Homo sapiens: one gene and its partner. The protein of the gene in region 1 interacts with the protein of each later gene in a pairwise test. Each region holds a gene or a part of one and is shown on either strand. Other genes may lie near its edges.

The links.
Region 2: the proteins of RPE (region 1) and EXOSC10 interact in a two-hybrid assay, tested with the Homo sapiens proteins (one large-scale study listed by BioGRID and IntAct).

What each region holds. Positions count from the first base shown.
Region 1 is NC_000002.12:210,012,428-210,016,245, forward strand, and holds part of RPE (ribulose-phosphate 3-epimerase), read left to right. Parts: intron 1-3,545; coding exon 3,546-3,685; intron 3,686-3,776; coding exon of another isoform or gene 3,777-3,818. UniProt on the Homo sapiens protein: Catalyzes the reversible epimerization of D-ribulose 5-phosphate to D-xylulose 5-phosphate.
Region 2 is NC_000001.11:11,075,652-11,079,469, reverse strand, and holds part of EXOSC10 (exosome complex component 10), read left to right. Parts: intron 1-1,818; coding exon 1,819-1,869; intron 1,870-2,026; coding exon 2,027-2,105; intron 2,106-2,521; coding exon 2,522-2,628; intron 2,629-3,818. UniProt on the Homo sapiens protein: Catalytic component of the RNA exosome complex which has 3'->5' exoribonuclease activity and participates in a multitude of cellular RNA processing and degradation events.

The DNA of each region.
Region 1 (3,818 bases):
ATGAAGCAGTAGAAATTAATAAATCTTGGTCCCTGAATACATGCCTTTTTAATATTTTGTGTGGCAAAGTAGGAAGTGCATATAAAGTGCTTGTGCTGCATTGCTGCATACTGGAACATAATGGTTTTCTCAAGGAAAACCACTTGCACCATAGAGGTGTGATCTGAACTAGCTGCTTTCCTCCAGAACACTATGTTTGTTTGAAAGAACAACTGACAGATCAACTATGGTTTTTCAGACCTGGCTATTTTAATGACATTTAAAAAATATTAACTAAATGAGGCTGTCTCTTCAAGGAAAGATACCTTGTCAGTTTTTGTTCCCAAAATTAGAATTTTAAAAAACTTGTGTATCTTACCACTCTGGGTTTGATAGCGTCCCAACAGTTAACAAGCTTTTCTGATGAGATCTGTAGTTATTTTACCAAATGTGATTTTGGGGTACTATGGAATGAAATCTGTCACTATTTGTAAGATGTGTGTAACTCAGTAAATCAGTACTTAAAAGACCCATTCAAAATACAAGACAAACAATGGGTTTTAATGTAACAAAGAATGAAAAGCTCATTGATAGGGTTTACAGAGTGCACACTGCAGCTAACCTTTATAAAATTACCACCCAGCACATTTAAGATAGGCTAGGCTAAGCTATGATGTTTGGTGTGTTAGGTATATTAAATGCAGTTAGAGATAACAGTATTTTCAATTTAGATTGAGTTAATTGGGATGTAACCCCATTGTAAGTTACAGAACATCTGTATTACAACAGATTAGATACAGAACAGATGTGAGAATATAGGTGTCTTCTGTTAAGCCAGACACTGAAAACTTGCAAAAATGTAAAACAAATAATACCACTCTTAATTAATAGGTAATAGAGTTATCCTTTTTTTTTTTTTTTTTGAGACAGTCTTGCTCTGTCACCCAGGCTAGAGTGCAGTGGTGGCCTTCATACCTCACTGAAGCCTCAGTCTTGATGGGCTCCAGCAGTCCTCCCACCTCACCTCTCCCCTCCAGTAGCTGGGACTGCAGGGGCACACTACCATGCCTAGCTAATTATTCTGTTGTTGTTGAGAAGGAGTCTTACTATGTTGCCCAGGATGGTCTCAAACTGGGCTCAAGCCATCCTCCCTCCTCAGCCTCCTAAGATTATAGGTGTGAGCCACCAAACCCGCCAAAAATTACATGCTTTAAAATGTCTTAGTTTGAATTTCTCATACATTAAATATCTATAAATATAATCCATATCAACAGAAGTTTCTTGGGGTCTTTAATAATTTTTAAGAGTGTAAACTCCTGGGCTCAAGCAATCCACTTGCCTTGGCCTCCCAAAGTGCCAGGATTACAGGCTTGAGCCACCGCACCTAGCCATATATAGTGTTTTTTTAATGTAACTTAGAATTTAATAGACCTTAGATTCTTTTTAATCAGCATATTGTTGACCAAGTTTATGAATAATAGATTATGATTATAATAGATGATAGAATGATTGGGAATTGCTGATCTAATGTTAACTATGCACAGATTTGCTGAACCATTGACTCCCTGAACACCATAGAACTTCTCCATTGAGGGTTGCTAGTGGTTACTGGATGCTAGAGGTTGAGTAAGGATGACATAGCTAGCAGTCTGGTAACTTAAGGAATGAATAGAGTAGGTTTTTTTGTTTTTTGTTTTTTTTTTGAGATGGAGTCTCGCTCTGTCGCCCAGGCTGGAGTGCAGTGGAGCGATCTCGGCTGACTGCAAGCTCCGCCTCCTGGATTCACGCTGTTCTGCCTCAGCCTCTCGAGTAGCTGGGATTACAGGCGCCCGCCACCACGCCCAGCTAATTTTTTTGTATTTTTAGTAGAGATGGGGTTTCACCGTGTTAGCCAGGATGGTCTCGATCTCCTGACCTCGTGATCCACCCGCCTTGGCCTCCCAAAGTGCTGGGGTTACAGGCGTGAGCCACCGCGCCCGGCCTGGAGTAGGTATTTTAAACCGGCTTGAATTTTCCTTGTTTATGATGCAAAGAATAAGAAACACCAGATTTAATACATTTTTTTAAGAATAAAGTTTTACCTATTAAAATATGTTCTAATTTAGGCCGGGTGTGGTGGCCCATACCTATAATCCCTGCACTTCGGGAAGCCAGCGTCAGAGGATCACTTGTGGCCAGAAGTTCGAGACCAGCCTGGGAAACAGTGAGAACTCATCTCTATTAAAAAAAAAAAAGTTCTCATACAATTACTTTTGCTGGATTAGAAATACAAACGTTAATCTTGACTTTATTAGTCAAGCTTTATACTTTCTTTTTCTGACTTTTTTTTTTCAAGGCTTTATTGTATTTCATAATTGTTCTGAAATGTTAGAATTTTTTTCTTAAATATAGCTTGGCTGTTTCAGAAATGTGCTTCCTCTAGCAAAATAAAAAACTTAAAACCTCTCCTCACTACCATCTATCAAACACAGGATTCTTCACAGTGTTATTTCTTGGTTTAGCTTGTTTTAAGCTGCCCTCTCCTTCTTATGAAATGCTATTATGTTTTAAATCAAGATCTTTAAGAAGGCCATGCCCATTTTCACCTTATGTGTTTATATGAATCAAGCTTTAGAATTAGGATGAATATCAGGTTTCTTGCAGTCAACATGTCCTTCCCCCTAAATTTGTTCTTGCAGTCTTGCCTCTCAATTAATGGCAGTTCCGTTCTTCTAGTTGATAAGGTCAAAATCCTTGATGCCATCTTTATTTTCCTCTCATCTATCTATCCATGGAGGATCCTCTTATCCTCCACATCTCATCTATCCTCAGCTCTCTTTGCTCTTATTTAAGAACATATCCATCCCGAATTGCTGCCATCATTTTTCACCTGGGTTATTGCTATCGTAGCTTCCTCAGTCGATAGTATCTTGTCACTTCACTGTGGTGGTTTTTCCCAGTGGCCTGCAGAATGCTGAAGGGTTTCTCCTCACCACATGCTTCCCTGACCTCTGACTGGTGTATCTCCTTCCCCAGGCACACCAGCCATATTAACTGCCAACCTAGTGTGCATTTTACTTACTTATTTTGTTTATTGTTTGACTCTCGCATTAAGAATGTAATCCCTATGACAGGAGAGTTTCATGTTTTTGCTCTAACCCTAGGACCTAGAATAATTAATGATGCAGCAATAGCTCGATAAATTGAAAGAATAAATGAAAAGGATCACTTAATTTTTCCTAGAGGAAACTAGTTTGCATGGATAGTATGACTTATTCTTTAAGTTTTTTAGAGTGGCATTTCCTGGACCTGGACCTAGATTTCCTGATTTTTAGATGTTAACTTTTTATATACAGCACTGTATGCTTTTTGTGGGAAAATAGTGTTTTTTGTAAATGAATTTAAATAAATCCTTGTCTTCAAAATAAGAGGAAACTACCTATACTGAATTAGAACTATTTAAATAATGATTTGTGTGATGGCCAAAGAGTTCTTATCAGAAGTGGCAAAAACTACATACAGGTTGGCTTCCAATAACATGAGCCAGGTATTTTTCAGTAATATTTTGAAGTGTCTTTTCTTTCTAGACATGCACATGATGGTGTCCAAGCCAGAACAGTGGGTAAAGCCAATGGCTGTAGCAGGAGCCAATCAGTACACCTTTCATCTCGAGGCTACTGAGAACCCAGGGGCTTTGATTAAAGACATTCGGGAGAATGGGATGAAGGTAAGAAATCGTGATGAGAGTGTTTTGTAACATTCACTCTCAGTTGGGAAGATTTGCGGGAAACAGGAAATTTTCTCTTTTTTTGATACAGTCTTGCTCTGTCACCCAGGCTGAAGTGCAGTGGCACAGTCAG
Region 2 (3,818 bases), on another chromosome or scaffold:
GTGAGCCGAGATCGCGCCACTGCACTCTAGCCTGGGAGGCAGAGCGAGACTCCGTCTCAAAAAAAAAAAAAAAGATTTTCTACTGAAGGGTCCCAACTTAGCAAGCCTGTTTTTTTTTTGTTTGTTTGTTTTTTGTTTTTTTTAGACGGAGTCTCGCTCTGTCTCCAGGCTGGAGTGCAGTGGCATGATCTCGGCTCACTGCAACCTCCGCCTCCTGGATTCAAGCAGTTCTCCTGACTCAACCTCCTGAGTCGCTGGGATTACAGGCATGCACCACCACGCCTGGCTAATTTTGTATTTTTAGTAGAGGCGGGGTTTCACCATGTTGGCCAGGCTGGTCTCGAACTCCTGACCTCAGGTGATCCACCACCTGGGCCTCCCAAAGTGCTGGGATTACAGGCGTGAGCCATCATGCCCAACTTTAGCAGGCCTGTTTTTTCTGCTAGTGTCTTATTCCTTGTGGCTTCCTAGATTCATGAGCTGGTCTGCATTCTAAACAACCCTAGGGAAATAATAGGGCTTAGGAAATCCAGTGTGTGTGTCTTGATGAATTTAGCTGCTTTTTTTTATGATAGTTGAGAGCTAAGACTCTTTATTTATGACCTTAGCTTTGATGATTCAGCAGCAAGTACTGTCTGGTAACTGGGCCAATTCACTGTTCTAAGGCAGTTAATGTGGTGGAGTGAGATGGAGCGGTGACCTCAGCAGAGGGAGCTAGTTTTGGGAGCCTGGCGATGGCCCAGATGTGAAGTGATAGCTCCCTGAATGAGTGAGGAATCACACACTGAGAAGGAAAGAACAGGTGTAGGAAGCATCAGAAGAAAAGATTGATGAGACTTCGTAGCAAATGCTGACAATGGCAGCCAGTTTTCTTTTGTTTTTTTTGTTGTTGTTGTTGTTTTGAAACAGGGTCAGCCGGGCGCGGTGGCTCACGCCTGTAATCCCAGCACTTTGGGAGGCCGAGGCGGGCGGATCACGAGGTCAGGAGATCGAGACCATCCCGGCTAAAACGGTGAAACCCCGTCTCTACTAAAAATACAAAAAATTAGCCAGGCGTAGTGGCGGGCGCCTGTAGTCCCAGCTACTTGGGAGGCTGAGGCAGGAGAATGGCGTGAACCCGGGAGGCGGAGCTTGCAGTGAGCCGAGATCCCGCCACTGCACTCCAGTCTGGGCGACAGAGCGAGACTCCGTCTCAAAAAAAAAAAGAAACAGGGTCTTGCTCTGACACCCAGGCTGGAGTGCAGTGGTGCAATCATGGCTCACTGTAGCCTCGCATCTGCTAGGCTCCCACCTTAGCCTCCTGAGCAGCTGGGACCACAGGCATACACCACCATACCCAGCTATGTTTTTTTTAATTTTTTGTAGAGATGGGTCTTGCTGTGTTTCCCAGACTGGTCTTGAACCCGTGGGCTCAAGCAGTCCTCCCACCTCAGCCTCCCAAAGTACTGGAATTACAGTTGTGAGCCACCTGCCAGCCCCACATTTGCAATTTTTGTGTTAAAAATGTCTTTGTAAGCTCTGTACTTTGTCCAAGTAAAGAGAGACCTTGATTACTAGAGAAGAGTCTTTTTCAAGCTCTTTGGAATCCTTCCTATTGTGCTTAGTCATGTTAAAGAGCTTTATTCTTTCATTCTACAAATAATTATTGAGCACCAAATAATTATCATGCCAGGCACTGTAAGGAGTGAAGAGAGGAAAGAAAATCTCTGGGCTTTTGAGAAACAGGCTGGTGAAGGAATACAGTCAGCGCTGGAGACTGGGGGTTGGACTTGAGGTGCTTGGGCAACTTTCCTCAATTCCCTTCGTTTTTTTCCTTAGTCTGAAGTTGCAGCCGGAGTGAAGAAGAGCGGACCGCTGCCCAGTGCTGAGGTAGAGTGTCGGATCTGTTTTCTCCCCCAGGAGGGAAAACGTCAAGTCACAGCCAGTGCAAGTACACCTCTGACAGAGGCCTGTGCTGACAGCTGGCAGAAAGCTACTGCCGGCTTGCACGTTTTACATGCCAGCCTGCTGGTGTCTTTTAATGCAGAGATTGGAGAATGTTCTCTTTGGACCTCACGACTGCTCCCATGCCCCTCCGGATGGCTATCCAATCATCCCAACCAGTGGTAAAGTCGAGAGCCCTCCTGACTGTCCCGAAGAGGTTGGGACACAGCTACCTTGTCTAAAATTCTGTAGGCTTGGCCGGGCGTGGTGGCTTATGCCTGTAATGCCAGCATATTGGAAGGCTGAGGCGGGTAGATCACCTGAGGTCAGGAGTTTGAGACCAGCCTGGCCAACATGGTGAAACCCCATCTCTACTAAAAATACAAAAATTAGCTGGCATGGTGGTGGGCACCTGTAATCTTAGCTACTTAGGAGGCAGAGGCAGGAGAATCACTTGAACCGAGGAGGCGGAGGTTGCAGTGAGCCGAGATTGTGCCATTGTACTCCAGCCTAGGGGACTACACTAAAACTCCATCTCAAAAAGAAAAAATAAACAAAATTCTGTAGGCTTTGACCTTACTATCTTCTGCTCCTCTAGGATCTGTGCCAGTTCAGAAGCAGGCGAGCCTCTTCCCTGATGAAAAAGAAGATAACTTGCTGGGTACCACATGCCTGATTGCCACAGCTGTCATCACGTTATTTAATGTGAGTAGCACAGAAACTTCACTGAGGTGATGAGGACCCCCTGGGATTTACTGGATTTATTCAGCAGGCTGTCTGCCTGGAGCATTGCATACACTCGGAGACTAATGCTGAGAGCAAAACCCAGCAGTGCTGGGAGAGGCATAGAGACCAATGAGCAAGGTGGCACTGACCACTCTGGAGGAGGTGGTCTGGGGACGTGGATGGGGGATTCTCTTGAGCTCTGTGTGAAGAAATCTTCCAGGAAAGGCTGACGTCCTGTTGTTGAACAGCACCTAGTGGGAGGAGGGCCTGCGCTAAGAGAACATACAAGCAGGGCTTTCCAGACAAGCTGCAGTGGTGGTGGAGGAAAAACGGTTCACCTGGATGCCCAGCAGGGGTGGCATGGGTGTACTGTCCGATGAACTGTAGAATGTGCGCTGCCCATAGCTTCCTGCCTGACCCCAGCACCACATATGTGTGCTTTCAGTGAAGAAGAGAAATGATTTTTTTTTTTTTTGAGACAATCTTGTTCTGCCACCAAGGCTGGAATGCAGTGGCACAATCATGGCTCACTGCAGCCTTGACTTCTGAGGCTCAAACGATCCTCCTGCCTCAGCCTCCTGAGTAGCTGGGATTACAGGCATGAGTCACTGTGCCCAGCTATTTCACTTTTTTTGTTTGTTTGGTTTGGTTTTTTGAGATGGAGTTTCGCTCTTGTTGCACAGGCTGGAGTGCAGTGGCATCATCTCGGCTCACTGCAACCTCCACCTCCCAGGTTCAAGCGATTCTCCTGCCTCAGCTTCCCTAGTAGCTGGGATTGCAGGCGCCCGCCACCATACTTAGCTAATATTTTATATTTTTAATAGAGATGGGGCCACTATGTTGGCCAGGCTGGTCTCGAATGCCTGACCTCAGGCGATCCACCCACCTAAGCCTCCCAAAGTGCTGGGATTACAGGCATGAGCCACCACACCCGGCATTTTTTTTTTTTTTTTTTTTTTTTTTTTTTGTGACAGGATCTCATCCTGTCACCCAGGTGGGAGTGCAGTGGCACCATCCTGGCTCACTGCAACCTCTGCCTCCTGGGCTCAAGCAATCCCTCTGCCCCAGCCTTCTCTCGAGTAGCTGGGACTACAGGTGTATGCCACCATGCCCAGCCAATTTTTGTATGTTTTGTAGAGGTGGGGTTTCACCATGTCGCCCAGGCTTCA